6 linked regions of the Homo sapiens genome follow. The protein of the gene in region 4 purifies or fractionates together with the protein of the main gene of each other region. This does not show direct contact. Each region holds a gene or a part of one and is shown on either strand. Other genes may lie near its edges. The genes, in order: ARL6IP5, TSPAN15, REEP5, MOG, KBTBD8 and SAAL1.

Region 1 (4,487 bases), on a different chromosome or scaffold from region 4:
AGTCCTCATTAGCCTCTAGGGTAAAAAGTTAAGTAACTCATTGTACCAGCCCACCACAGACGTCTTGTTAAGGGTTTTGTATACACAGTGGATTGGGGTGGGCGACTATAATGCCCAAAACTTTGTCTAAATTTCTTCTTCTTATTATCATTATTGAGACAGAGTTTTGCTCTTGTTGCCCAGGCTGGAGTGCAATGGCGTGATCTCAGCTCACTGCAACCTCCACCTTCTGAGTTCAAGTGATTCTCCTGCCTCAGCCTCCCAAGTAGCTGGGATTACAGGCATGTACCACCACGCCCAGCTAATTTTTGTATTTTTAGTAGAGATGAGGTGCCACCATGTTGGCCAGGCTGGCCTTGAACTCTTGACCTCAGGTGATCCACCCACCTAGGCCTCCCAAAGTGCTAGGATTACAGGTGTGTGCCACCATGCCTGGCATAAATTTCTTCTACATAATGTGTTTCCTCCATTATCAATAGTAGTGTAATTGCTATTACATACTAAACATTTGGCTTATATAAGAATGAATCTGGAACTGTGTGCTTGAAAATCTGCATTGGTAACTCATCTCCTAATGATACTTTGGGCATTTTAAAACACTTATAATGAACTCTCTATGTGAGGAGTCATAAACTCAAATGCCTCCATGGGGCAGGCAGGTTATGTAAGAGAGCGATTCAGGCCAGCTATTAGAAAAACAATGATTAGACTGGGCATGGTGTGGCTCATGCCTGTAATCCTAGCACTTTGGGAGGCCGAGCTGGGCAGATCACTTGACGCCAGGAGTTCAAGACCAGCCTGGCCAACATGGCAAAATCCCACCTGTACTGAAAATACAAAAAATTAGCTGGGCGTGGTGGCATGTACCTGTAATCCCAGTTACTCGGGAGGCTGAGGCACAAGAATTGCTTGAACCCAGGAGGCAGAGGTTGCAGTGAGCCAAGATTGCGCCACTGCACTCCAGCCTGGGTGACAGAGCAAGACTCTGTCTCAAATAAAAAAAAAAAAAAAAGAAAAACAGTGATTAATAGCACCTCACTTTGGGCCTATGTGTCCATGATGCAGTAGAGAGCAGTGTGGACTGGAGCTCAATGGAGACTGTTTATTCTGTCTGAATGAGAAGGCACTCAAGCCAGCTGTTGACATGTGGGAAAGTGGGCCTAGCACTGTTATTTTCTTGTTCCAGGAGAACAAGAAATCCCAAGTTTTCTGGATTTTTTTTTAACACATGGGTTTCAAGTAAAAGTTTTTTAAAACACTGTACAGGCCAAACAAAAATGTGACTGTATACTGGATCTAGCCCATGGAGGCCATTATGTGGCCTGTATTCTACATTCGTCCATCATGAGCTTCTCTGAGGATTTAAATAAACCTTTAGAGCTAAGAAAACACAACCTACTGTGTACTAGAGCCCAGGATGTAAGGAAGCTAAACATAGTACCTTCAAAAGAAGTTTTAGTCTTCAAAATTGTGGACCTCTAACGAGATACTTTGATGGGAACTGCCTGGGTGTGATCTCAGCTCCACCTTTTTTTTTTTTTTTTTTTTTAATGAGATAAGGTCTCACTCTGTCACCCAGCCAGGAGTGCAGTGGGGGAATCTTGGCTCACTGGAGACTCAACCTCCCAGGTTCAAGTGATCCTCCCACCTCAGCCTCCTGAGTAGCTGGGAACACAGGTGTGTGCCACCACACCTGGCTAATTTTCATATTTTTGTAGAGATGGGTTTTGCCATGTTGCCTGGGTTGGTCTTGAACCCCTGGGCTCAAGTGATCCTCCCACCTTGGCCTCTGAAAGTGCTGGGATTATAGGTGTGAACTACCATTCCTGGCCTTCCCCACCATTTTCTAACCTCTGTGCCTTAGCTTCTTCATTTGAGAAATGAACTAATAGTATCTCCTTTATAAGGTTATGAGAAATCAAATGAGACAATTTAGATAAAGTATTAAAGTATTAGTAAGTTCTCAATAATTGTTTTTACTCCTCTTTCTCCTTTTGCTACTTCTATTGCTGAACTAGTCACCCCTCATTTTTTCTTCCTCATATTTCAGGTTTCTGAGTCCCTTCAACATGATCCTGGGAGGAATCGTGGTGGTGCTGGTGTTCACAGGGTTTGTGTGGGCAGCCCACAATAAAGACGTCCTTCGCCGGATGAAGAAGCGCTACCCCACGACGTTCGTTATGGTGGTCATGTTGGCGAGCTATTTCCTTATCTCCATGTTTGGAGGAGTCATGGTCTTTGTGTTTGGCATTACTTTTCCTTTGCTGTGTAAGTGAACTTGAGTTTTTTCTTCCATCATCAAAAAAATGTAGAAGCAATTATCCAACGGGAATTCCATAACCCATTTCTTATATGTGTTGGCATGTCAGCAAAAGTGTCAGAATTTTCTAAAACAGCTTTCTACTTGTTATCCAACTAGACCCAGATAACACAGAACTGAGGTCAAGAACTATGAGGTCAAGGCCTTATAGTTCATTAATTCCACAAATATTTGTTGGGGCATCTGCTATGTGTCATACATTCTTTTGTTGTTGTTGAGATGGGGTCTACTCTGTCACCCACGCTGTGGTGTTATCTCGGCTTACTGCAACCTCTGCCTCCTGAATAGCTGGGACCACAGGTGCACACCCAGCTAATTTTTTGTGTTTTGGGTAGAGACCGGGGTTTTACTATGTTGCCCAGGCTGATCTCGGACTCCCAAGCTTGAGTGATCTAGCTTCCTTGGACTCCCCAAGTGCTGGGATTACAGGCGTGAGCCACTTCGCCCAGCTGTGTGCCATACATTCTTATGGGGACACAACAGTAAACAGAACAAAGACAAATCCCAGGTCATACAGCAGGAATGTGGCATAACCTGCACTAGACTCCAGATTTGTCTAATAAGAGAGTCTATTCTCAATTTTTAAGTGCCATTCCTATTGTCCTGACACAGGAATGAATGTATTTATTATTTGGAAGTAGACTATTTATTCTCCACTTGCTCAGGAGATCATAACTAGTGTTAAAAGTTTGGTAAGTCTATAGGAATAATTGGCTCAGAATATAGGTACTAAATACTCAGATTCTGGTGAAGAGATCTAGATATTCTCTAAGTTTTACATGAATTATTTACTAAGACTCCAAACACTTGAAGCCTGAAATAGACAAGAAATAAAATCCCAGCCTAATCAGCAGAAATCTGATTAAAATTCTAGTATATTAAGTGACAGGCACATCCCTTTAACTTTCAATAACATTTGACATGTGCACTTATTCCACTAAATGAAATTATTTGCTTGTTTAGGGCTTTGTTAGATTAAGTCCAGAATATTTATGGATACATCCCATACCCTATTGGATAAAATATCTGAGCCAACAAATTCACACATTTTTGGAATTTTCTTCAGGTTTTCTGTAGGTGCTTAACGCTTAGTATTTCAATGATACTGTTTAATCAAACAGCTTGCTAATTTTAATACCTTTCCACATCAGAACCTGAGACAGGCCAGTGTAACGAAATGTATCAGAGGTAGACAGTTAAGAGTCCTGATTTCTATTCTTAGACCTGCTGGAAACCAGCATGTGATTTGGACCAGTCATCCTATATGGGCTGTAGTTCACTCATCTCTAAAGTAAGGAGATTAGATAAGTGATTCCCAAACGGATAATTGTGACAAGCATTCAGGATACTTTTTAAAAATATACATTTCCCAGCCACATCTTTATTTTGTGGGTCAACAGTGGTACCCAAGGATGTTAGGTTTTTAGAAAGCTCGTCAACTATTTCTAACGGGTGGTCTAGGTTGAGATCCTCCAGATGAATCCACATCAGGGTTTTTCAAAATAAGGGTCCAAGATCCACCTACATCAGAATCATCTGGAGTGATTATTAAAATAATGAATTCTGGAGCCTTCCCTCAGTTGTAACAGTCTGAATTTGGGGTGATGGAGACCAGGAATTTGCCTATTTAACAGGCTCTCCAGGTGATTTGAATGTACATGGAAGTTGTAAAACCACTGGTATAGATCATATGGAGAGAGGGTTACCTGTTTAAAATACAGATTCCCAGGCCTGTCTCTTTAAGGCTCAGGTGGAGGAGGTCCAGGAAAGGGGATAGGGAATCTGTGGTAAAATAATCAAGCAAGTTTGGGGAACGGTAGGCTATAGAAACTCTGTAAAGCCCTTAGATTTTTACATCTAGAATTCTATACCCAACACTTTGGGTAAAGCCTCCGGGAGGCACTTTAAAAGTGGACTTTACTCACGTGCTCCTGCAGGGAACAAGATACAGATAATCCCGAATCGAGCAAGAGTTCTTTTCTGGAAAGCCTCGGGTAAGTTGATTTTTAAGTAGGATGGAATCCCGTTGATTCACTCTGAATTTCAGGACATTTAAGTAGCATCTGCAAGGTGATGATATCAGTGTGTGAAGGAAAGGGTGTGGCTTCCAGATAATGGTCCTTCCTGTTGAATACAGCATTTTCCTTTAATGCAGAAAAAAAACTAT
Region 2 (4,510 bases), on a different chromosome or scaffold from region 4:
AGAGGCCGTGGGACCTACACACAGGCACACACAGCCCTGGCTTTGGTCAGTACTGAGTGTGGGCAGAGGGGCCGCAGCCCTGTCCAGCCCCACGATGTTGACTGAGAGGTGCTATCCCAGACGGTCCTTGTTGGAGCTGCCATGGCAGGCTGGGCCCTAATTGGGGTAGCACAAGCAGCATCCCGTGCCTGCCGCCTCCACGCTGGGCTTGGCACCGGGCCCCAGGAGCCCATCAGTGACAGAGTGCTCCATGATGATGTCCTCCACCCGGGTGATGTACAGCAGCGTCAGCAGCACCCCCAGGAACTGAGAAGAAGGGGCAGGGCTGGTGAGGGCCTGCTGGGAATCAGGGCAGCCCTCCCTGCAGCTCCCGGCTCCCAGAAACCCAAGCAGCCAGTCCCAAGCCCTCATGGTCCTGTGTGACCTGGGCAACACCCACAGCAGAGACTTCTCCCAGCACCCACACTGCCCAAGAAGCTCCCACCTGGGCCCCCTCTCCCCTTCCCAGGAAATCCCAGAGCGCCTCGCTGTGCCCCATCAGCAAGGGCCCCTCCCTTCTGGGATTCCTGCCTCCACCCCAGCTCTGCTGCACACTATCTAGGGGATCTTGGCAAGTCACTGAAGCTTGCTGCTCCTCAGTTTCCTCCTCTGTGAAATAGGCATTATAATAGTGCCTCCCTCACAAAAAGAAGTGAAGCAGCAGTGCCTGCGCAGCACTTGGAAGAGCTTCGCCACGACTGCTATTGCCATTTGCCCCTCCTTCCAGCCATGCAGCCCTCCCCAGGCAAGTCCTGGACTTCTATGAAAAAAGCCTCTTCGCTCTTCCCCTCTGCACCTTCTCTGCCCTTCTGCAATCACCAAGTCACACTTTCTCTGAACCCACGGCCTGCCCACCTGGGGAAGCAGGATGCCCAGGAGGATGCCCGCCATGATGGTGTAGTTGTCCATGAACCAGATGATCACGGCGTTGGTGCAGCCCCGCACGTAGATGACATCCTGCACACTGAAACGCTGCATGGGAAGGAGCTGGGTCAGCCCAGCAGAGGACCTCGGCTGGCAGGAGCCACAGCCCCGACTCTGCCATGTACACAAGGTCCAGGCTAGTCCCTCAACCGCTGTGATCCTCAGTTTCCCATATGCAGCATGAGAAGGTGACCCTAGATTCTGATTCTTAATGGACAGTACTGTTCTCTAGAGAGGACTGGGGACACCGTGGTGGCACTTTTGGTTGCCCCAGCAAACGAGGTTGGCGGCTGAGGGACTGCAGAGCTCAGGGTAATCCTACTCCACAAACAACTGCCCTGCCTGTGTGCTTCTCAGATGTCCCTGCATGAAAAGCCTCACGGATGTTTTCCATACATGAAAAGCCTATTTATAATTATCCAAGCCAATAGCCCCACTCCAGGTACATATAAAAAACAAAGCAGAGTTGGGCATGGTGGCCAGTGCCTGCAGTCCCAGCTACTATGGAGGCTCAGTTGGGAGGAGTGCCTAAGCCTAGGAGTTTGAGGCCAGCCTAGGCAACAGTGAGACCCTGTCTGTCTCTTAAGGGAAAAAAAAAAAAAAAGCATTTCTGCATTGGTTTTAATATACAAAGAATTTTCCAGAAGTACTACTAGGTAAATTAAGGAATGATTACACATTATTTAATTCAGAACTTTATCAAGAATTGTTCACCGTTTTTAAAAACCATGCCAGTGGCAAAAATGATGCCCATGGTATGTGAGTCGCCAACACAATGCCCAGTATCAGCTGCCCTGTAGCTACTACAGCCTCAGGGATGCCTCACATCAGTGCAGACACCTGACTACATTGTGTCTTCTGCACCCCCCACTGCCTAAGCACTTACATGATGAACTATGTTAAACAGCTGTAAATTGCTGTATTTCATTTCTACTTTATCTCAGATCATTATGTTAATTGTATTGGAATTGGGCATGTAGGTAGGTTATCTGTGAATTTCACTTGGGGATAATAAATAGGACATTACCACTGTTTGTTATAAAAATGGCCATTGGTTCTGAGGGGCTGAGAACCACTGCTGGTCTATGGCTCTCAAGCATGTGTCAGAATCACCCACTAGCCCCATACCAAGAATGTGCATTTCTCACATTCCTAGGGGATGCTGTTGCTGCTGGACTGGGGACCCCACTTTGAAAGCCACTGCTCTGCATGTCAGGTCACTATTCCTTTTAGGTCCCTTCTCAGCACCACCCCTGCTTCTCTCCTAGACCAGGGGTGTTGCCCAGGAAGCTGACCCAGGAGCAACCCCCAGAGGGGGTTACCATCCTCTAGGACTCCTGGGTCCCAGGTGGCCCCAGGGGCAGAGGCAAGCTGGTGCTGAGCATGGCTGGGCACACAGCACGCTGCGGGTACCAGGAAGCGCCGTGGTGGCTTCATGTGGAACAGCCCACAGTAGGTGCTCGGCAAACCCTGACAGGCGGCATCTCCCAGCCTGGGGGAATTCTTGGTTCCCTGAGCCCTTCTGTGCTGGGGTGGAAAACCACAGCAGTCCTGGCTCTGGGTCACAGCCAGGAATGTGGGAAAATCTCAGTGGCCAGGACCCCGACCTCAATAAACCCCTCCGATCACCCCAGGGTGGACCAGGAAGAGCAACATTTCCAGGGAAAGGCATTTCAAAGACATTACCTCCTTGTCGATAGTTTTGTAGCCACACATGGTGTTGACAACTTCTGTCTGAAATGGAAATGTATAATAGCTAATATTTATAATGGTTCTAACTCAAAAAGGCACTATTATCCTACCCATTTTACAGATGAAAACCGAAGCACAGAGTTGCACCGTCCAGCAGGGATGGAGCTGAGATTCCGACCCAGGCAGTCTGGCTTGAGTCTCCATCATAACCACCTCCTCCTCCAAGAAATGCCCCGTGAAAAAACTGTAGGAATGCAGGTTCCATGACTTTTACCTGGGAGAACCACCCCTCCACTAGCAGCAGATCAGGACCCCAGAGAAAGGTGTGCTGCCCACGCTCCCGGGCTATGACCGCCCCAGAGCACCGCTTTGCTCACACCGTCTCAGAGGTCGGGGTGGGGCTGTTCCTGCGCCGCTGGCTCTTGGGGAGGAAAACTTCAGACTACAGCTGGCACAGGGTCAGCTGTGGTTTACCTGAGGTCCAGGGCAGGGCCCCTGGCCATGCTTCCGTTCCATAGACCACTGCTCCACCAGCGGAGAGTGCTGCCAAAACTTCCTTCTTGGGAAGAGAGGTGCTCTCCAGAACTCCCGACTACTGATTAATTTAGGCATAGGGAAACCTGTGGTCACGCCCTAGACCTCATCAAACCCCTCCCCAGGCAGGCCCTAACTCACAGGCTGCCGCGGGCACTTCCCATCACCACCTGTGCCCCGCAGGGTCTCCTTCTCCAACCACCAGGGAAGAGAGTGAGACTTCCTGGTCCAGCCCATGACCGTCCCCCCCAGCCCCGCTGCTCTACATGTAAGTGAACGCTGCCGTGAGTGCTGCAGGCGCCAGTGATGACTCAGGAGGGCAACAGCAGAGCCCCCAGCGTGCCCTCTGGTGTCACATTTCCTGGGTCCAGATCTTGCTCTGCCACTTAGGAGCAGAGCCCAACCTTAGGTGGGCTGCTAAGGAACTGGCACGCAGAGGTACTCAATACATATTTGTTAACTGAGAAAATGAATGAATGAATAGGTTGTGATGATCACAGAACCCACCTCCTAGGGCTGTTTTGGACATAAAGTGAGATACACATATAAAGTGCTTATCACGGGGCTGGGCACATGGAGGAGCACAAGAATGCTGGCTGGCGTGATTTGTTCACAATTCCAGCCCCTGCAAAGGAAAGGGAGGGTGTCTTCTCTCCTTCCGAGAGAGGGTTGGGCCTCAGATGTCATCTAGGTCATTCTAAATGTCAGGGCTTGATGTGCAGGCAAGACGACCTCCCTCGGTTTAGCTGGTTCTCCAGGTAGCCTCAGTCCCAGCCATGCCCAGTGCCCACTGGGCATTAGTCAGCCAGTGTTTTTGGCCCTTCCAGGCCATAAACACAACCCCTATGGAGAGGGTCAGGCCTGGAGAGCAGGTGCACGGGCACATGATGGGAGTGAGTGCTTTCCATCTCATTGGTTCATTCATTTGTTCATTGAACAAATATTAACTGAGCACCTATTGCATGTCAATCCCAGTTCTAGTCACTTGAAATACAGAACAACAAGACAAAGTCCCTGCCTTCATGGAACTTACACTGTAGAAAGGGAGATAATGAACATAACAAATAGGTAAGCTGCATGGTACGTAGGGAGGTGACAAGAGTGACTTCACTGGGCCAGCTCTGGTGACCTCGGGGGATGAGTCTCTTAGCACACAGGCAACTGGCAGAGGCCTCTCTGGCATCAGAGCCCAGAACCCTTCTCCAGGCCCAGGGGGGACTCACCTCACCCTGCCAGGAGAGCCCCTCACCAAGGGGTGAGGGGATACGATGCATCCATAGTCTTTCCAAAAGTAAAGCCTGCCTGGGTTTACCTGCCTGAC
Region 3 (3,500 bases), on a different chromosome or scaffold from region 4:
AATGCCTTATAGGCCATTGTAAAGGTTTGGCTTCTACTCTATGTGAGATGTGGAGGTACTGGGGACTTTTAACCACAGAAGCAAAATGATCTGTCCTGTGTTTTAATAAGATGCCTGTGGCCACTGTATTAGGAACAGACTGAAGGGGTAAGGCAGGAAGTTGGGAGAACAGTTAAAAGGTTCTTGCAGTGATCTGGCTGGAGGTGATGATGGTGGCTTGGTTCCTTGTGTAGCAGTAGGGGGTAAGAAGTATCAGATTCTTGATATATTTCAAAGGTAGAAGTAATGGGATTTGCTTATGGATTGGCTTATGGATTGGGCATGGGTCAGAGGGGTTAAGGACAAGGACGAGCTTTTTAGCCTGAACAGATGGAAGGATAAAATTGCCACTGAGCTGGAGAAGACTGGGTAGAACAGGTTTTGTTGGGGTGGGAGGTTGTGGTGGGTGGGAGGATATGGAATTTAGTCCTGGACATTTGTTTGAGGTGTCTGTTTGTTAGATACCTACAAGGATTAGTCAAATAGCTAGTTGGATACAGGTGTCAAGAGTTCAAGAAACAGGTCTGGACTGGAGATATAAATTTGGGGGCCACAAGCTTATACATATTAAGCATGAGACTAGATGAGATCACGAAGGTAGTGTAGTTAGGAAACAGGAGGTCCAAAGACTGAACGCTGGGGAGTCTAAGGTTTAGAGACTGGAGAGATGAGAAGCAACTAGCAAAGCAGACTGATAAGGAGTGGCCAATTGAGGTAGCAAGAAAACCATGAGCGTGTGGTATCCCTGGGGCCAAGAACAGAAAGTTTTTCTTTCAGAGAGGAGAAGTGATCTGTCATGTTACATGCTGTCAACAGGTCAAGTAAGATAAGGACTGAGAACTGAGCAGATTTAGCAATGAGGAAGGTACTAGTGATTTTGATAACACAGATTTTGTGGAGTGATATCAAACTCCTGATTGCAATGGATTTGAGAGAATGAGAGAAAAGGGATGAGAGAATATAGATCTTTCTTTTGAGAAATTTCCTGCAAAGGAGAGCAGAAGAATGGGGCTATAACTGGAAGAAGGAATTATGGTCCTGAAATTTTAAAAGTTTTTTTCTTAAGGTAGGAGAAACAAAGCCTGTTTGAAAATTAATGGGAATAATTCAACAGAGCAAAAAATGATGATAGGAGTGAGAGGGTGAATTGTTGGAGCTCTGTCCTTGACCAGTGAAGGATCCAGTATACAGTAGAGGGATTGGTCGAAGAGCTGGAAGTTTATGGTAACAGCAGGGAAATCAGGTTTTATGGTATGCTGTGAGCACATGTGACTATGGGAGCCTACAGAAGTGACTTTCTAATTGTTTCATATTTCTCAGTAAAGTAGGAAGGCCAATTGAGAGAGGATGGGGAAGGAGACAATGGAAAGAGAAGGTATGAAATAGTTGCGAAGGAGAGGGACTGCTCATCTTTTTCTGTAAAGGGCCAGATAACAAATGTTTTAAATTTCGTGGGCTATCATGTCTCTGTTGCAGCTACTCTTCTCTGCCATTGTAGTGTGAAAACAGCCATGGACACTACATAAGCGAGTTTGGCTGCAGTGTGCTGGCCCCTCTAGGACAGTTGGAGAGTAAATGGACTGTCAGGCAGTGTTAAAGGCATGCTTGAGATTTGCGTTCATGAATTTATAGTGAAACCAGTTCTTGTTTATGTTTTTCTCCAGCCATACTCAGCTACATGGGTATAGCTACAGAGTAGGTGGAGAGTTGTGTCAAGGTTGTGATTTCCAGCAAGAACTATGAAGTGAGGGTGGGACTGTGGAGTGGTTAATGCTTGACAATGGAATTTAACCTGAGTAAGGTGGGAAGTGGTGGTGGAAGAACTCTGAATCAGGATAATAGCGGGAATACTCCATCATCATCTACAATGAGCAAAAAAGCAGGGTGGGGAGTGCACTACAAAGATAAAAGGTGATGGTGGCTGAGTGGGATGCTTGATACAAGATTATGGAGGGACTGCAGTATTGGTACTAACAGGGATCCTGGGAGTCAGTGCCATATGTAGGGTGGAATATAAGGGTTATTGGAGGGGAGGAACTAAGAGGTCAGGATATTAGAAGATCATCACATATGTCTACATGGATATTAAAATCATCAATAATTAAAATAGGAGTAGTAGGTCAGGTGCAGTGCTCACACCTGTAATCACAGCACTTCCAGAGGTCAAGGTGGGTGGATTGCTTGAGCTCAGGTGTTTGAGACCAGCCTGAGTAACATGGTGAAACCCAGTCTCTACAAAAAAAAAAAAACACAAAAATTAGCCAGATGTGGTGATGCGTACCAGTAGTCCCAGCTACTCAGGAGGCTGAGATGGGAGGATCACCTGAGCCTGGAGGTTGAGGCTGCAGTGAGCTGAGATGGCATCACTGCATTCCAGCCTGGGTGACAGAGTGAGACCCTGTCTCTAAATAAATAAATAATAGGAGTAGTGTTAGAAAGGAACATTAAGTTAGGAGCTAAAATCTTCAAGAACTAAGGCAAAGTAGCCCAAGAGTCAGGGATGACAGGGAAAGGGAAGGCTACTCAGTGATAGAATCTGATGACATGAGATTCTGAAAGTGGCAATGAAGAACAAAAACAACACCTACCAGATCCATTTGTACTAGGGTCATGAGAGGAAAGAAACAGCCACCACTTGAGAAAGCAGTGTCCTCAGGGCACAGCCAGCTTTCTCTAAGAGCAAGAAGGTAAAGGAAACATTCGGAGGAATGGATGAGGATATAGATTTTGCCAGTGATGGGTCTTGAGTTCCAGAGGGACTCAGATTTTAGAAATTGGAGAAAGGTTTTTGTGTTTTAGAGCTCTGTGGTAGTTAGACATGGGAGTTGTGAGGTTGCCTGACCATGGGGAAGTAAAATCCCAAGACAGTTCTCCAGCAGCACTGATGCCCCAGAAGTGGTATGTTCCCCATTTCTCCCTCACAGACCTCTCTTCTCTGGACTCCTATTTTTGGGCATACAAATCCAGTCTACTTGAATATGTTTTAGGTATTTTTTAACTTGTAGCCTTAACCTCCTCCCACTTTAGGATTGCCAGCTTTTTTTTTTTTTTTTTTTTTTTGAAACAGAGTCTCACTCTGTTGCCCAGGCTGGAGTGCAGTAGCATGATCTCAGCTCACTGCAGCCTCCACCTTCCAGGTTCAAGGGATTCTGCTGCCTCAGCCTCCCAAGTAGCTGTGATTACAGGTGTGGGCCACCACGCCCAGCTGATACTTGTATTTTTAGTAGAGACACCGTTATGCCATGTTGGCCAGGCTGGTTTCAAACTCCTGGCCTCAAGTGATCCACCCACCTCGGCCTCTCAAAATGCTGGGATTACAGGCATGAGCCACCATGCCCAGCCAGGATTACCAGCTTATTTTTAAGAGCTTTCTTTTCTTCTCCCTTCCCTTAGCCTAATCAGCAACCTGTGGTGATGTCATTTCTGTCTACTTCACCCACATTTCTTAGCCTCTTGGTTCT
Region 4 (5,659 bases):
GCCTGGCACATAAAAACAGTACATGAGTATTTTTATTATGATTTTACCAATCCTAAATGCAAATGACTTCTTATTTAAAGAAAGAAAAGAGAAGAGAGGAAGGGACTCAACCAGGAGCCAGGGGTCCTTGTTCCCCCAGGTGACTGGAACTAGAGTGAAATACCAAGTTGACCTGGGAGGGCCTAGACATGCCGGAACTTACCAAAAGTCCGGTGGAGATTCTCTGAAAGAGAAACAAATGGAAATGGATTTAGTAGGGCACTCAAAAAGGATCTTTTATCCTGAGTCTTTGTTATTTAATTACTTAAAACTTGTTCTAGGCACGACACACCCACTGTAGAGAAAGGGAAACTGAGGGGAAAACAGGGTATTGAGAGGGAGAGACGGTCCAAGAACGGGACCATTTCCGTTATGCCAAAAAACCAAAAGGCAAGAATTGGGAGAAACGATGACTGGAACTCACCTATCTCTGCTCGAAGTTTTCCTAAAATAGAAAAAGGCAACATTTTAGTTCCTGCATGTTCTGGCTCTCGGTGGGGACCCTCCCACACCCAGCGCCTGGGCCCCTTGTGCAGGCTATTTCTCTGCAGCCTGGAAACAACCTCAGGAGAGTAGGAAGAGCACTGGATTTAAAGCCAATGGTTGCGGCTCTTTCTCTAGCTATAGTCTAGATACAATAGCGAATAAAGAATGTGAGCAATGCTCCAAGCCAGCACAAGCATCCAATACATCCCAGCTGCTCTTCGCCCCTTTTCTTGGATTCTCAGTTCACAGAGCTGCTCCAGCCCACTGCGTTGCCACTTTGTTTATCTAAAGCCACTTCCCATCTGAATGAGGAGGGAGGAGCTGAACATTTAGTGAGTAGCTAGCTACTTTGTGACTGGATTTGTAGTAGGCACTTTGCATGACTTTAATCCTCCCTACAATTTAGGACGAAGGATGTTTTCTCTATTTGACAGACAAGGCAACTGAAGCTTGGAGAATCTAAGAATTTTGCTATAGAGTTCAGTACCTGAGATGGAATTCAAACCCAGGCTGCCTGACTCTAACATTCAGATTCTTTCTGCTCAGCCATGAGGGCTGAAGGCCTTTTTTTGTGTGGAAGAAGTAAACAAGCAGGCATCTGGGATGAATTCAAGGTGAGAGAAAGGACTTTGTTGTTGATCGCACCAACACCCATTCCCCCAGAACATTCCCCATACCCTCCTTGCTACTTTCTCCTCTCCTCTTAGTAACAAATGGGAGGTGGGGCATGGGGAGGAGTGAAGACTCTTCCTGCTCTGGCATTGGGGAGACACTTGGTAGGAGGAGAAGGCTCAGAATGAAAGCTCTAGGCAAAAAAGAGGAGCTTCATCAGCAGCTGAACCTGAGTCCTCAGTGTTGAATGGAGAAAGAGGAAACAATTTTCGAACGCCTACTGTGTGGTAGAGACTTTCACTTCAGTATCTTTATTCAAAACTCCTAATAGCCTAGACCTGTCTGACTTCGAAGCTCACACTCTCCCAAGTTGCATGGAGCTGCTAGGTATGATACAGAGGCCTCAGCTCTACCACTTATAAGTTATATCGGTTTGAGTAAGTCACTGAACTACTCCTGGCCTCAGTTGTATCCTCTGTAAAATGGGGTTACTATATGGCATAGTTAGCTCATAGGGAAATGCTAGGTCCGATTATTCATATGAAAGCATTCCGTAAGATGTAAAACTCTTTCATCATGGAGTTATTTTTTTTCTTTATCACTCAATAGTGAGAAGAACTTCTGAACCCAGAAGTCACTCACAAATACATGTTAAGTGGTGTAGCTCCAAGAAGCCAGCTCATTTAAAGAAAGGATCCTGATCCACCCACCCTCTGCCCTGTACCTCTCAGTCTGTACTGCAGGCAGAGGAAGATGAGGCCAACAGTGATCTGCAGGAGGAGCACAGGCAGCACCGCGAGGAGAACCAGCACTCCAGGGCTCACCCAGTAGAAAGGATCTGAAAGGCAGGACTGACATTTGACATTGTCCAGAGCTGAATCCCCAACACTCAGCATGGTGTCTGGGGCCCAATAAATCAGGTCAAATAAAGAAGTGAATATCATCAGGATTCAAAGAAGGTGACACAGAATTGGTCCCTGAGCTTAGCCCTGAAGGAAAAATGGCTTTTTTTTCCAGGAAATGCTAGTGATTTAGAATGACAAGTGGTTTAAAGTCAAGATTGTGTATTGGGTCAGGCTGGGGGAGTTTTAACGAGCAGCTAAGGGACTTACATCTGAAGTCCCTCAAGGGACTTTTTATTGACGACAAAGTCAAAGGTTCTCTTCATATTATTGTGGTGTATCGCCTACAAGCATAATTAAAATAAACACTAAATTTCAGTTTAAAGTTTACTGAAAATAAATATGTATTTCAAATATGTAGTTCAAGGCTGTGGTGGTGCACTGAAGGATTCCAAGCTGAGAAGTGACCACGTCAGATTTAGCACCTACAGGACTGGAGAACATAGGGAGAAATGTTAAGAGACTGTGATAACAATTAAAGTAAAAAACAACATGAACCTGAACTAGGACAGTGGTAATGGTATAGGAAGTCAGGGGATTCAAAGCTTAAATAGGGAATAAAAAATACATATTTATTTTCAGTAAACTTTAAACTGAAATTTAGTGTTTATTTTAATTATGCTTGTAGGCGATACACCACAATAATATGAAGAGAACCTTTGACTTTGTCGTCAATAAAAATCACAAATATTGGCCAGGTGCGGTGGCTCACACCTGTAATCCCAGCACTTTGGGAGGCCGAGGCGGGCGGATCGCCTGAGGTTGGGAGTTCAAGACCAGCCTGACCAACATGGAGAAACCCTGTTTCTACTAAAAATACAAAATTAGCTGGACGTGGTGGCACAGTCCTGTAATCCCAGCTACTCAAGAGGCTGAGGCAGGAGAATCGCTTGAACCCAGGAGGCGGAGGTTGAGGTGAGCCGAGATCTTGCCATTGCACTCCAGCCTGGGCAACAAGAGCGAAACTCCATCTCAAAAAAAAAAAAGAAAAAGAAAAATCACAAATATTTTCACGTCACATTAGAAAAGTCACAGAAATCTCAAACTATCACTTATGTTCATTACTATTTTGAAATTACACTAATTAATAGGGTCACCCTAACTCTTGTTAATTTAATATTTTGATAACTGTATTTTGGTATAAATGTTTTATTTGGTGTATTTAAAACATTCTTCTGGCTAGGTGTGGTGGCTCTCCCCTGTAATCCCACCACTTTGGGAGGCCAAGGCAGGAAGATTGCTTGAGCCCAGGAGTTCTCGAGGCCAGACTGGGCAACATAATGTGAGACCCTGCCTCTACGAAAAAAAATTAAAAATTACCTGGGCATGGTGACACAAGCCTGTGGTCTCAGCTATTCAAGAGGCTGAGTCAGGAGGATCACTTGAGCCTGGGAGGTGGAGGCTGCAATGAGCCATGATCGTGCCACTGCAACCAATCCTGGGTGACAGAGTGAGACACTGTCTCAAAAAAAAAAAAAAAATTCTGAGATGGGTCTATCAACTTCATCAGCTTGCGGAAGGTGCATGACACACAACAAAAGGTTAAGAGCCCTCTTCTAGAGCTTTTAAGAAGGTAGTTTACAGCGGGCATGGTGGCTCACACCTGTAATCCCAGCATTTTGGGAGGCCAAGGTGGGTGGATCACTTGAGGTCAGGAGTTCGAGACCGGCTTGGCCAACATGGTGAAACCCTCTCTCTACTGATAATACAAAAATTAGCCAGACATGGTGGTGCAGCCTGTAATCCCAGCTACTTGGAAGGCTGAGGGAGGAGAATTGCATGAACCTGGGAGTTGGAGGGTGCAGTGAGCCGAGATTGCACCATTGCACTCCAGCCTGGGTAACAAGAGCAAAACTCCATCTCAAAAAAAAAATAAATAAATAAATAAAAGAAAAAAGAAAAAGAAGGTAGCTTACACAGGATTCAGTAACTGAACAGATGTGCAGACCTGGAGATGTGGAGTAGGTTGAGCAATGAGGGAGGGGGACCTTCACTTCTGTGGCTCCCATCTATTTCCCATTCTAGGTCTGCTCCTCAGCATCCAAAAGCCCCACTCTAATCTCCATGTGCCATGCTGCAGCTGAAGCCCTTTTCATCTTGATCTCTGCTTTAAGGGAGCTGAGTAAGGATAATGACATCAAAGGTAGGGATACATCACAGCTAATAACATTAAACTGGTCCAGGAGGGTTGCTTAGGTATAATTACAATCCTTCAAGCTGTAGACTAAGGCTCCTGTCTATCATTGTGTTCCCTAGGGGAAAATGCAGCTACCTTTACTTTCAAGTTCTTAATGGAAGTTACCTGTAGCAATGTGATTTAGCGAGTATGTACTTAAGGGTTTTTTTCTCCCAACCCCCCACATTTTTCCTTTCACAAATAATTAGAAAAGAGAGAAAAGCAGACATTATCAGCCTCCGGATGTAAAGCAACAAGAAGTATAGAGTATCACTGATGAACTATATTTGCCAAAGTAAATCAAACACAAATGTCATTGCACCTCCACATCTATCAGTTTACAGAAAAACACAGGGCATGGAGGACCGTATTACATAGCAACATGGGAATGTCGTCAACAAAATTCAGACCCTGGGAAACCCTAAGGGCAAAGGTCAACAGGTGGGTCTCATTTGAATCTCGCTAAAAGAAACCAACTGTAAGAGTATATTTATGAAACAATCAGGAAAATTTGAACACAAACTGGGTATTTGATGATATTAAGAAATTTTTGTTGAGTTTGTAAGATGTGATAATAGTATTGTGGTTATTTATTTATTTATATTATTGTGTGTGGGGAGGGGGGGCTTTTTTTTTTTTTTTTTTGAGTCTCACTCTGTTGCCCCAGGCTGGAGTGCAGTGGCATGATCTCAGCTCACTGCAAGCTCCGCCTCCCGGGTTCACTCCATTCTCCTGCCTCAGCTCCCAAGTAGCTGGGACTACAGGCGCCTGCCACCACGCCAGGCTAATTTTGTTTTTGTATTTGTAGTAGAAATGGGGTTTCACCATGTTAGCTAGGATGGTCTCAATCTCTTGACCTCATGATTCGCCCTCCTTGGGCTCCCAAAGTACTGGGATTACAGGTGTGAGCCACCGCGCCCGGCCTATTTATTTTTTAAAAAGTGTTCTTCGCTGGGTGCAGTGGCTCGCGCCTGTAATTCTAGCACTTTGGGAGGCCGAGGTGGGAGGATTGCTTGAGCCTAGGAGTTTGAGACCAGCCTGATCAACATGGTAAAACCCAGTCTCTACAAAAAATACAAAACATTAGCAGTGTGTGGTGGTGTGTGCCTGTGGTCCCAGCTACTATGTAGGCTGAGGTGGGAGGATGGCTTCTGCCCGGGAGGCAGAGGCTGCAGTGAGCAGAGATATGCCACTACACTCCAGCCTGGGTGACAGAGACAGATCCTGTCTCAAAATAAATAAAAAGAAAAAAAAGAAATGATCATGCTGCCTAGGATTTACCTCAGTAATTGAGTAGGGGAGGGTGGTAATGAGTGGGGAGCCGGTGAGGTGGGTGGTCCCTGGATTGACAAGTGCTGCAGCAAGGTGGTAGGCACTTGGAGGCTCATTATAATATTATCTCTGGTTTGTATGTGGTTTTTTTTTTTTGAGACAGAGTTTTGCT
Region 5 (5,563 bases), on a different chromosome or scaffold from region 4:
CTGCCTTAGCCTCCTGAGTAGCTGGAATTACAGGTGCCTGCCACCACACCTGGCTAATTTTTGTATTTTTAATGGAGATGGGGTTTCACCATGTTGGCCAGGCTGGTCTCAAACTCCTGACCTCAAGTAATCCACCCGTCTCAGCCTCCCAAAGTGCTGGGATTACAGGCGTGAGCCACTGTGCCTGGCCAGAATCAAGCTCTTAACAATTCTGCCATCAAGCCCAAGTAACTCCTTGTACCTTCCCAATACAAACCTCCCAATTCAGGTTGATTATAATATTATCTGTTATATTGTGTCATGGAATGACAAAGTTTTAAGGTATTTTGTAACCCATATGAATGTATCTCTGGAGATTATAAAAGAAATGTTTTAGAAAGTGAAATATATAGCAAATTATGCCCTTTAATCTTTAGAGGTTGTAGTTACAACATATAACCAAAAACCAAACATAAAAATTTACATATTCTTGTTTTCTTTTTTTTTTTTTTAGGAGAATTTTTTCTCTTCTATGAGCCTCAAAAAGACTACTGGGGTTTCTTAACCCCCATGACTGTGCCTAGAATCCAGGGCTTAGCAGCTGTATACAAGGACTCTATCTACTACATAGCTGGAACCTGTGGAAATCATCAACGTATGTTTACTGTAGAAGCCTATGATATTGAGCTAAATAAATGGACTCGTAAGAAAGACTTTCCATGTGATCAGTCCATAAATCCATACCTTAAACTGGTACTTTTCCAGAACAAACTCCATTTATTTGTTCGAGCTACTCAAGTGACTGTTGAAGAACACGTCTTCAGAACCAGCAGAAAAAATTCCCTTTACCAATATGATGACATTGCTGACCAGTGGATGAAAGTGTATGAGACCCCAGATCGGCTCTGGGACCTTGGCCGGCATTTTGAATGTGCTGTTGCTAAACTGTATCCTCAGTGTCTTCAGAAAGTACTCTAAATGAGTAGCAGGCCTTAGTGCATCACTGGCATCTCATTCTTAGGAAACTTGTCTTTGATACAAAAGAGTGCTGACAGTATTTCAGAAAGCTGAGAGAGTTTTATACATGGAAAATGGGTATGCTTAAAGATTGCAGGGTAGGGAGGGATTTTCCTTCATCCTTGTGACATTTCATTTCAGTAAGGAAAAGATAACAAAGTGCAATTATCAGCATTTTTTTTTCCTGGCATAAAATTAATCATTTCATTTTATAATTTTGTGATAAATAGTAACTGAGGTACCAGATGAATCAGGACAACTATGCACTCTTATAAGAGCATTTAGGGTATTATTGGGTAAAGACGTCTAAACTTGTTTGATGTGACTTTTAATTTTAAATACGGGTAACAATCTGAGGCAATATCACTAGGACTTTAGCTGTGACCTCTCTAACACAGAGAAGCACTAACTTAGATCCTCATTCTTAATATTTATATGTATCTATTTTTGTGTACTGTTTTCAAGTGTACTGAGATTTAAATGTGTTCTATTATTAGAGTAGATCGAAGAAAAAATTAGTCTCAGAAAGAGCTTTTAGTCTGATTGTTTCCATTTCCCATGTAATTTTAAGTTAAGCTAAAGTTTTAAAGTGGCAGTTTTCTGTCGATGACTTTTTCAAGTGCTAACACTGTCTCTTTTGTGAAAATCTGGAAAAGTGCTCATATTCACAGGTGGCTGGTGCTAGTCTAACTTAATTCATGTGTATAACTAGATGGATTTAAATGGTCTGAGCCTATGCCTATCTTTCAAATTGGTGTGGATTTCATGGCCATAGTACTTTACCTGTTGAACTCTTGTGATTTCACAAGATTCTCTACTTATGTGATAGGAGGGTATGGCCAGTTATTCATCTAACTGGACTCAATCTTAGAATAGTAGGAACATTATACCCAGTTTGCACTAACATGGGCCATTTGTAGCCCAACCTTCTCTTCCATCTACCTGTCCATTCATTATTGGTACAAGGAAAGGTAACTTATTTCTCTTCTGCACAGAGCATAATGTGAAGTTTTATACCTACTTTTAAAATTCTGCTTTCCAGAAACAAAATTCCTGCAGTGGTCTAATTTAATGTCTTTAAGTTTCATATTACAATTAAAACCTCATTTTTTTTTTCCATTTTTGCACTTAACAGTGATGAATACTTTTACGTTGGAATCCTCCTTCTAGCTGAAGGTGATTGAAAAGGAAAAGAGTGAGTGAACAGAACCATAGCTTTCTAGGTACTAAAGCATTTTTTGCATTTAACTGATGAAATTTCTAACAATCATCAGTTAGGAATATTAACATGAAGGATAAACCAACTTATTTGTATACCTAAGGCAGGCATTTGGATCAGTAACATGTTTTACTAAGCCTAGAGTAATTCGTAAAGGGTATAAGCATAGGACAGATTTTGCCCTCAATCACAATATTTGTATTCACTTGAAAGCAAACTGGCATGGTTCGTATTTTAAAAATCTTGCACAAATTGTAATGTGATACTGTGAAACAAATTGAAAACATTGCCTCTTTGCATCACATACCTCGTTTTTCAGAAACTTTCCAAACTGCTTTACATAGACCTCTACAAGTAGGGAATGTTTTCTGAAGCAGAAGTTAAAATGGACAGCATTTCTAGAATTAACATTTTAAAATCTAGTCTTAGCTAGATATGTGGTTTCTTCTTATTGGTGTTGATAGTATGTCTGTAATCTCTGTATAAACTTTGTCAACATTTTTACCTCCCCAGTTTTATCTTCTGTTTTGTTTTTGTTTTTATCATCATGATGTTTTGGAGTTATTACTGTGTATTTTAGAAATCATTCTTTACAGTTTTGCATTGCTGAGGAGAGAGAAAAAACAATTTTTTTGCAAGAGATGTTCATGTAATTTATTTTTGAAAGCTTTGTTGAATAAGATTTCCTGCCGCTTTTTGACAATCTTGTGTATTTAGAAAAATGTATTACTTGAAAACATGACATAGAACATTGAGTTAGCAATTTACATGGGCTGTATGTTATATAAGAGAATGACATACTGTGGCTAATTCAACAGTAGATTTATTCTTTTAGCCTGCACAACAGTTGATCTTTTGGCTATGACAATTTGTATGGAGGGTACGATCTAAGTTAAGTGTGTCAAAAGCAAGGCTTAGGATTTGTTATGGGAGTAGAATATATATTGAATTTTGTATGAAGAACTATTTGTTTAAATTATATAGCTGGGATATTTTGCCACTGTTAAAATGGATTCAGAAGAGGTCCTAGAAAAGTAAGATTAGTGACATGTGTGGGTTTATATTTAGATATTTAAGGTGCATTTTCATAGTGTGGTAAGACCTTAAGTAAAAGGCACAATGGGTACTACAGAATTAAAATGTAGGTCTAACATAATGCCAGTTCCACTTTAACTTTGTTTTTGCATTTGAAGAATGTATGTAGCACTTTCCTATATATTTGTCACACATTGAAAACTGGACTGGGTATAACTATGTTATAGGAAAGTAGAAATTGTATTCTTTATTTTCCATCTTTGTTTTCTGTTCTACAAAGTTGATGCTTAAGCATCAAGCTGATTTTATTGGTCATGAGAACAAATGGATGTGATCATGAAGGAATCAGATTCCCTATGTAAAGCAGTTTAAAATGGAATTCAATGTTCAGTGCTCAGGTATGTAGTAAGTACTGTAGTCCTGTGGGGGCAAATGTGTAGATATTTTTAAACATTTTGCCATAATTGCACAATTTTTTGCATTTTTACCTGATGTCATTGTTTCTTATAATAAAACCTTTTCTGATTGAAAACTTCCAGTGTTGCAAAGTGATATCTGACTAGTGAGTGTTGCAGAATTAAAATCTGGTAAAAAATCATGAAATACCTTATGTCATGATAGAATGGAATGAGATTTTAATCTATTGAATACCTGTCCTCTGGTAAAAAATGAACTACTTTATGTATATAATACTTTTTAAATTCTAAAGCAAGTTAGTTCACTTATATTGGTAAATTCTTTGTTCTGTTTGTTCTGGCCTAAAATCTTGTTATGTTTGACTCTTTTGTGTTGGTCCACTTTGCATTACCGTAAAGGAATACCTGAGATTGAGGCCTCAGGAGGCTTTAGCTCATGGCAGAGGGTGAAGCGGGAGCAGGAAAGAGAGGGAGCCAGAGAAAGTTGGGGGAGGTTCCTGTCTCTTTAACAATGGGATCTCACATGCGCTCATTACCATAGGGAGGGCACCAAGCCATTGATGAAGAATCCACCCCCATGATCCAAATACCTTCCACTAGGCCCCACTTCTTCCAACACTGGGGATCACATTTCGACATGAGATTTGGAGGGGACAAATGCCCACACTATATAATCTCTTACGTATTTCATGTTTAATTCATCAGAAAGTCCCGTTGCTTCTTCCTTCATAATACATCCAGACTCAGACCACATACCATTTGCACCACTGTCACCCTAGTCTAAGCCAGCTTATCTTATCTGACTTAATGCAGTTTCCACTGACTGGTCTTCCTTCTATCACCCTTGACCCCTCATAACCTATTCTTTTCTCCACACAGTACTCAGAGTGATCCTCTTAAAACACAAGTCAGATCATGTTTCTCTTCTGCTCAGATCCTTCCAATGGCTTCCCATCTCCCTTCATATGACAGCCAAACTCCATACTTACATGATCCACCCCTCTCAAACTTGTTGCCATTTACTTGGCTTGCTCTATTTTAGCCACACTGACCTTGCTTGTTGCTCAAACCTGCTGAGCACCTCCACAGCGACTTTGCCCTTGCTGTCTCTTTTGCTGGATAGATCTTGACAACTCACTCACTTTCTTTTTTATTAAAACATCACCTTACTGGAGAGGCCTTCTCTGATCACATTTTGTAAAATAAGATCATCCAACCCCACCCCCATCATACCTCCTGCTTTATTTTTCTGCTTTATTTTCCATATGTGTCTTCCCCCATTGAAATGTACACTCCACAAAGGCAACGAATTTATTTTAATTCACTGTTGCACTTTAGATTGATGCCTAGCACATAGTAGGCACTCAATGAATGCTTGTGGGAAGAAATGAATTTTCAGTTAAGTCTTGGAGCCTAAAGGATTACCAATTTTATTGGTCTTTTCAAAAAAAAAAAAAACCAGGTTTAGTTCTAATGAATTTTCTCTATTGTTTTGTGTTTTCGGTTTCATTGATTTCTGTTCTAATTTTTATAGTTTTTTTTCTTCTGGTTGCTTTAAGTATTAATAACTCATCTTTCTATTTCTTTTCTTTTTTTTGAGACAGGGCCTTACTCTGCCCAGGCTGGAGTGCAGTGACGCAATCTTGGCTCACTGCAGTCACCTCCACGGCTCAAGAGATCCTCCCACCTCAGCCTCCTGAGTAGCTGGGACTACAGGCGCACGCCACTGTGACCAGCTAATTTTCATTTTTTTTTTTTTTTTTTTTTTTTTTTTTTGTTAATACGGGGTTTCACCATGTTGCCCAAGCTGATCTCAAACTCCTGGGCTCAAGTGTTCTGCCTGCCTCAGTCTTCCAAAGTGCTGGGATTATAGGCATGAGCCACTGTGACTGGCCTT
Region 6 (5,659 bases), on a different chromosome or scaffold from region 4:
GGATACTATTAGTACCTATCACCTAAGTTATTATATGAAATTATACACAGAAAATGCTTAGAGTAATGCCTGGCCACCGTGAGTGGTAATAAACTGTTATTACATATTAATTAACTATTACTGAGATAGATTCTTAAGTTCTTTTCAACTTCTTTTCCCTATACACTAGTCTCCCCTTATCCTTGGGGGTTGCATTCCAAGGCCCCCAATGCCTAAAACCGAGGATAGTACTGAACCCTATTTATAATATGCACAAATTTCCTTTTCCTTCTTCACAGTTTCATGGATAGATTTGTTCTTAGAGATCCTAAGCAACCTCAGCATACATTTTTGTTTGTTTTTCTTATGAAGTCAAGAACTTTTACCTTTTCATGTAAAGAAAGCACTTAATGGCGGCTCCTTGGCATATCCAAATTGCCAGCATCACTACTCTTGTGCTTTGGGGTCATTATTAAGTAAAATAAGGGTGACATGAACACAAGCCCTGTGAGATATCCCGATGGTCGATCTGATAGCCAAGATGGCTACTAAGTAACTAATGGGCAGGCAGCACATACAGTGTGGATATGTTGAACAAAAGAATGATTCACATCCTGGGTGAGACGGTGCAAGATTTCATCGTGCTGCTCAGAAAGGCATGCAATTTAAAACATGAATTGTTTATTTCTAGAATTTTCTATTTAGTACTTTTATACCAAGGTTGACCATGGGTAACTGAAACCATGGATAAAGAGGGACTACACTAATACATTATGCATTTCGCCACCAGAGTAATCTTCCTAAGATACTGTTTCAGTATGTTGTCTCCCCTCCTTGAGCATCTTCATGATTCCAAATAACTTCCCAGATTAAGTCTAATTCTTCAGCACGGCATTCAGAGCCCTTAATCTCAGTCCTTTATACCTGCAGTATTTACCTCATGCTGTTCACCCACTTTGTGCCACAACCAGAGTACTTTATTGTCTACAGTATTCGCCATGTACATGATTCCCTTCCTGCCTTTGCTGATACTTTCCCCTTATTTGAATGTCTGTCTTTTTGTTTGCATATCTCATTCCTATCAATCATTTAAAACTCATTTTATCGATAGAAGTTCTTCTCGCATAGCTCCTGCCTTTGCCCTTTCTTGTTCTTACGTTTTTCATCCCTTCTCAAATACTGTAAGCTTGTCAAGGTTAGGGTACAGGCAGTATATGTATTTCTTTATCCTGCCTCCCCTCCGCCTTGCCCCAAAACTTGGCTCAGCGAAAGTTTTTGTTCAAGTTGATATTTTTGTTTACGTCTTTCGTCTCAGAGCCATTGTGACTTGTAAAATTTGATTTGGCAGGAAATCTGTGTGGGAATTTTAGGTAATATGGCCTGTTTCCAGGAGATATGTGTGTCCATCAGCAGTGATAAAAATCTTGGGTAAGTCTTACTATATAATTATGTTTTTTAATATATTCATTTATATCCTTAAGGAAATTCTAATACATAGGAAAAGTAGCAAATCTGAAAGACAGTCCTTTCTTTGTCTTGATGAACACTCTGTGGGAACTTCATTGTGTGTTGATGATAGCTAGGGGCTTCTTCAGGAGATACTGAAATGATTCAGGATTTAAGCCTGTTTTCTTCAGTAGCAAAGGAACCTGAATTGTCAGCTGGTGGCAATAAGCCAGATAGGGGAAGAACCAGTGGGCCAAAACTTGGAGATGGGGCAGCCAACTGGAATCCAAAACAGTTTAGGGGCAGGGAATCCAATGACTCAGCTGGAGTCTACAGAAACTAGATTTGTTGAATAATGTCATCCTGAGAGCTCTGACTTAGAGTGTAAGACTTGCCAACAACTGGAAGATAAAGGGTTGCCTCTCTGATGAAAAGACTTTCAGATATCTGCTTCGAGGCTCGTTCTCTTCTCCATGTGTAAAGTTCTGGGCAGAAGGTGTTTTAATGGAGGAAACCCCAGTGGTTACTGTGTTCGGAGAACACCCCGAAATTATATGCTGAATTTTGTGAGTGTATTAGTTTTCTAGGCAAAGGGTTCATGGCTTTTAATCAGAATCTCAAAGAAATTTGTACCCAAAATAGGTTAAGAAAACTGTTCTAGGCAGTTTTTGTCAGAGCTGGGGCCATGAGGGTTTTATCACAGGATTCAAGTACCTGGGTTTCTCAGAAAGAGAGAACTCCTAGTTGTGGAGGGACTTTAAGATCCTAGTTCAGAGTATTTATTCCTCAGTAATTTACCATCATCCATGGAACAAATGACTTAAGATTATGTTTGGTCTCTAATGTTCTCTATCAAAAATCCAAAAATGAGAAATGTTAACAAATGTTATAAATTCAGTTAAATGCTTGTCTTAATATTAGTGTGGTGCAATTTATATTGCTGATGGGATATAAATTTGTTGAACCACTTTAGTTGGGCATTATCTGGTCACGTTGGAACATATGCATGTGCTGTGACCAGCTCATAGTGGGCATATATGGTAAGAGAAACTGTGCACGTGTGCATCAGGATAACTCTTAACAAATATTGTAGGAGGATTGCTTGAAATAGCCCCAAATTGGAATCAACAGAAATGTCCATCAACAGTAGTCTGGAAAAATAAATTGTGTTATTTTCACACAATGGAGTGCTCTGCAGCAGTCTGTCAAAGAATAACAGCTAAAGAAACAACATGGGTAGATCTTACATGTATAATTTTCAGCAAATAAATGAAGACTCAATAAGTATAATTTATTTCATATGTTGTCTCCCCTCCTTGACTGTCTTCATGAATCCAAATAACCTCCCAGATTATGTCTATTTATTCAGCATGTCCTCTTAATCCTTTTACCTGCAGTATAAAGCAACACCAAAATATATAAAATAATAAAACTATAGTGCAAAGTAAGGAAATGATTGCTGGAAAAATCAGAATGGTCATCATTTCTAGGTGGGAAAGAGAATTGTGATTTGGAATGGACACATGGTGACTACAAAGATGCAGCTCTGTTCTGTTTCTTGGAAACACGAGTGTTTGCTTTATAATTATTTATTAACTATAGATTTGTATCTTTTGAGCTTTTCTGAATATATGCTGTATTTCACAATAAAGATGTTCAAAAAATTAAATGAAAACTCTGATATTTTAAATGCGAGAAGTGAGGCATATCGGTTAACTTCTTTGTTTTTGTAGGCAGGTGTTATTGCACTGTTTGTATGATTCAGACCCACCTACTCTGCTGGAAACAAGCAGGTATGCTTTTCCTTTTATGAATTCTATAAGGTTACTCATAAGAGTAGATAAGAAAAAAAAGTTAATTTTTTATTTTCGAATTTCCTTTACTGTTTTTTTTTTTTTTTTGAAAAGTAGAAATTCAACCCACGTTTACCATGTAGGTTGTTGCTTACTTGCCTTTCCCAGGCAGAAGTGGCCAGTGTTTGGGTTGAAAGGATCCAGGAACATCCAGCTATTTATGATAGCATTTGCTTCATTATGTCAAGTTCAACAAATGGTAAGTCATCATGTACTCTAGAAAAAAAATGTTTTAAATTGTATCTAATTTTTAGGAAACCATGTAACTATTTCTAGAAGTCACCTTTTTAAAAAAAGCCTTGAGTGCAAGGTAATGAAGTTTGTTTGAGACAGAATCTTGCTCTGTCACCCAGGTTGGAGTGCAGTAGTGTGATCATAGCCTACTACAGCCTCAAACTCCTGATCTCAAGGTATCCTTCTGTTAATCTCCCCAATAGCTGGGACTATAGTCATGCACCGCCATGCTCAGCTCATTTTAAAATTTTTTGTAGAGACGGGGTCTCGCTTTCTTGCCCAGGCTGGTCTCCAACTCGTGTGTTCAAGCAGTCATCCAGCCTTGGGCTCCCAAAAGTGTTGGGAGTATAGGTGTAAGCCACCATGTCCAGCTTTTTGTTTGTTTTTTTGAGAAAGTTTTTTGATTGAAGATACAAAATTTCTTAAACTCCTGGGACACTGATAAATTCCTCATTTAAAAATGAGGAAAGATAAGCAAATTTAAACATAAAAGATAAGTAAATCACCCTTTAGAATAAGTACTGCTTTGGCAAGATTTGGTTTTCTTAGAATAGCTTTAGGAATTTTGCTTAACCCTATTGCTTTTAGCAGTTTGTTTTTCATTTCAATATCTGTTTTATTCTCTGCAGTTGACTTGCTGGTGAAGGTGGGGGAGGTTGTGGACAAGCTCTTTGATTTGGATGAGAAACTAATGTTAGAATGGGTCAGAAATGGGGCTGCTCAGCCTCTGGACCAACCCCAGGAAGAGTCTGAAGAGCAGCCAGTGTTTCGGCTTGTGCCCTGTATACTTGAAGCTGCCAAACAAGTACGGTAGGTGAGCTCTTTTGTGTAAAATGTTCTGGGAAAATGCAATTGCTAGAAGTATTCTCAGATATAAAAGTCTTCTTATATTCCTTACAACAGAATAAAGTACATAGTCACTCCTTGTTACGTTAATTCACTACTACTATTTGTGATGCAACCTGTATAGTGGTTACAAAGTTCCTGTTATATTATCATTTAGCTATAGGCTGTTACTCAACATTAACTGTGGTTTCTGTCTTACCATATTTTATGTAATTTAAATCAAAGAGAAAACATTTTCTTGTGCTTTATTTTACATTGAACATTTAACAACTTCATTAACGTTGCACATCATTTGCTTTTTTTTGCTCCTTGTGTTTATATGCCAGTCTTCAATAAGTGACCGATGTTGGGACTCTGATGTCTTGCCAAGAGTGATTACTAAGCCTTACAGGTCATTAAAACTGTTTATTGCTAATCACTAGAAAATTAATTTTTAAATTGATCTGCTTAGTGTTTTTCTTAGTGCATTCTTAGTGCTGAGTAAGCCACATCAAAACCTATTAATTTTGTGTCCTTTATCCAAGTGAGGGATAAATTCATCATCTTTCCCTAAACCTGCTTCATCAGTATTCTCAATCTCAGTAAATGATGTAATCATTATCCTATTTGGATAATGTAGAAGAAATGGAGAAGCCAATTACTGAATCTTTCCTGCCCCAGTATTTTCCCATTGCAGTCAACTCCCAACCCTTATTCCTGACATTTTCTGGGATTCCATCCATGCCAATCAAGCCATTATTGTTTCTCATCTGGAGAACTGCCACATTCTTTTACTTGAATTCCCTGCCTCTATGCTTGCTCTTCCCAAGCCTAGACTTTAAAGCTGTTTTTGCAAAGTACGCACTCATTTCACTCTCATGCTTCGGTCTTTTCAGTTGCCTTCCTTAGGATAAGGTCCAGAAAAACAAACAAACAAACACAGCTTGGGTACTACATACATCACCTGGGTGATGGGACCATCCATATTCCCAAACCTCAGCATCATGCATGTAACAACCCCCAACATGTACCTTCTGAATCCAAAATATAAATAAATAAAATAGGGGAAAAAAGAATGAAATAAATGAAAAATTCTCAAAAAAATAAAGTACAGCTTATGGACCCAGTAGCGCTATCCTTATTCCTTGTACTCTGCGTTTCAGTCATGTGAAGTTTGCGTCACTTCTTCAACTGAACCAGGCTGTCTTGTCTCCAGGCCCTTGCACAGTATGTTTCCTCCACCTCAGACACTTCTTTGCCCCTTCATGTTTCTGTGTAAACATCATTTTTCTTAAGATACCTTCCCTGACCCTGCAAACTAA

What was found.
Region 1: the proteins of MOG (region 4) and ARL6IP5 purify together in Homo sapiens (affinity purification with mass spectrometry; one large-scale study listed by BioGRID and IntAct). This does not show direct contact.
Region 2: the proteins of MOG (region 4) and TSPAN15 purify together in Homo sapiens (affinity purification with mass spectrometry; one large-scale study listed by BioGRID and IntAct). This does not show direct contact.
Region 3: the proteins of MOG (region 4) and REEP5 purify together in Homo sapiens (affinity purification with mass spectrometry; one large-scale study listed by BioGRID and IntAct). This does not show direct contact.
Region 5: the proteins of MOG (region 4) and KBTBD8 purify together in Homo sapiens (affinity purification with mass spectrometry; one large-scale study listed by BioGRID and IntAct). This does not show direct contact.
Region 6: the proteins of MOG (region 4) and SAAL1 purify together in Homo sapiens (affinity purification with mass spectrometry; one large-scale study listed by BioGRID and IntAct). This does not show direct contact.

The regions. Positions count from the first base shown.
Region 1 is NC_000003.12:69,099,789-69,104,275, forward strand, and holds part of ARL6IP5 (PRA1 family protein 3), read left to right. Parts: intron 1-2,050; coding exon 2,051-2,268; intron 2,269-4,487. UniProt on the Homo sapiens protein: Regulates intracellular concentrations of taurine and glutamate. Negatively modulates SLC1A1/EAAC1 glutamate transport activity by decreasing its affinity for glutamate in a PKC activity-dependent manner.
Region 2 is NC_000010.11:69,502,625-69,507,134, reverse strand, and holds part of TSPAN15 (tetraspanin-15), read right to left. Parts: intron 2,698-4,510; coding exon 2,650-2,697; intron 1,012-2,649; coding exon 895-1,011; intron 307-894; coding exon 157-306; 3' UTR 1-156. UniProt on the Homo sapiens protein: Part of TspanC8 subgroup, composed of 6 members that interact with the transmembrane metalloprotease ADAM10.
Region 3 is NC_000005.10:112,880,728-112,884,227, reverse strand, and holds part of REEP5 (receptor expression-enhancing protein 5), read left to right. Parts: intron 1-3,500. UniProt on the Homo sapiens protein: Plays an essential role in heart function and development by regulating the organization and function of the sarcoplasmic reticulum in cardiomyocytes.
Region 4 is NC_000006.12:29,662,468-29,668,126, reverse strand, and holds part of MOG (myelin-oligodendrocyte glycoprotein isoform alpha1 precursor), read right to left. Parts: intron 1,976-5,659; coding exon 1,862-1,975; intron 485-1,861; coding exon 464-484; intron 224-463; coding exon 203-223; intron 1-202.
Region 5 is NC_000003.12:67,007,429-67,012,991, forward strand, and holds the end of KBTBD8 (kelch repeat and BTB domain-containing protein 8), read left to right. Parts: intron 1-493; coding exon 494-957; 3' UTR 958-3,782; downstream 3,783-5,563. UniProt on the Homo sapiens protein: Substrate-specific adapter of a BCR (BTB-CUL3-RBX1) E3 ubiquitin ligase complex that acts as a regulator of neural crest specification.
Region 6 is NC_000011.10:18,087,993-18,093,651, reverse strand, and holds part of SAAL1 (protein SAAL1), read left to right. Parts: intron 1-1,327; coding exon 1,328-1,407; intron 1,408-3,158; coding exon 3,159-3,218; intron 3,219-3,361; coding exon 3,362-3,477; intron 3,478-4,141; coding exon 4,142-4,322; intron 4,323-5,659. UniProt on the Homo sapiens protein: Plays a role in promoting the proliferation of synovial fibroblasts in response to pro-inflammatory stimuli.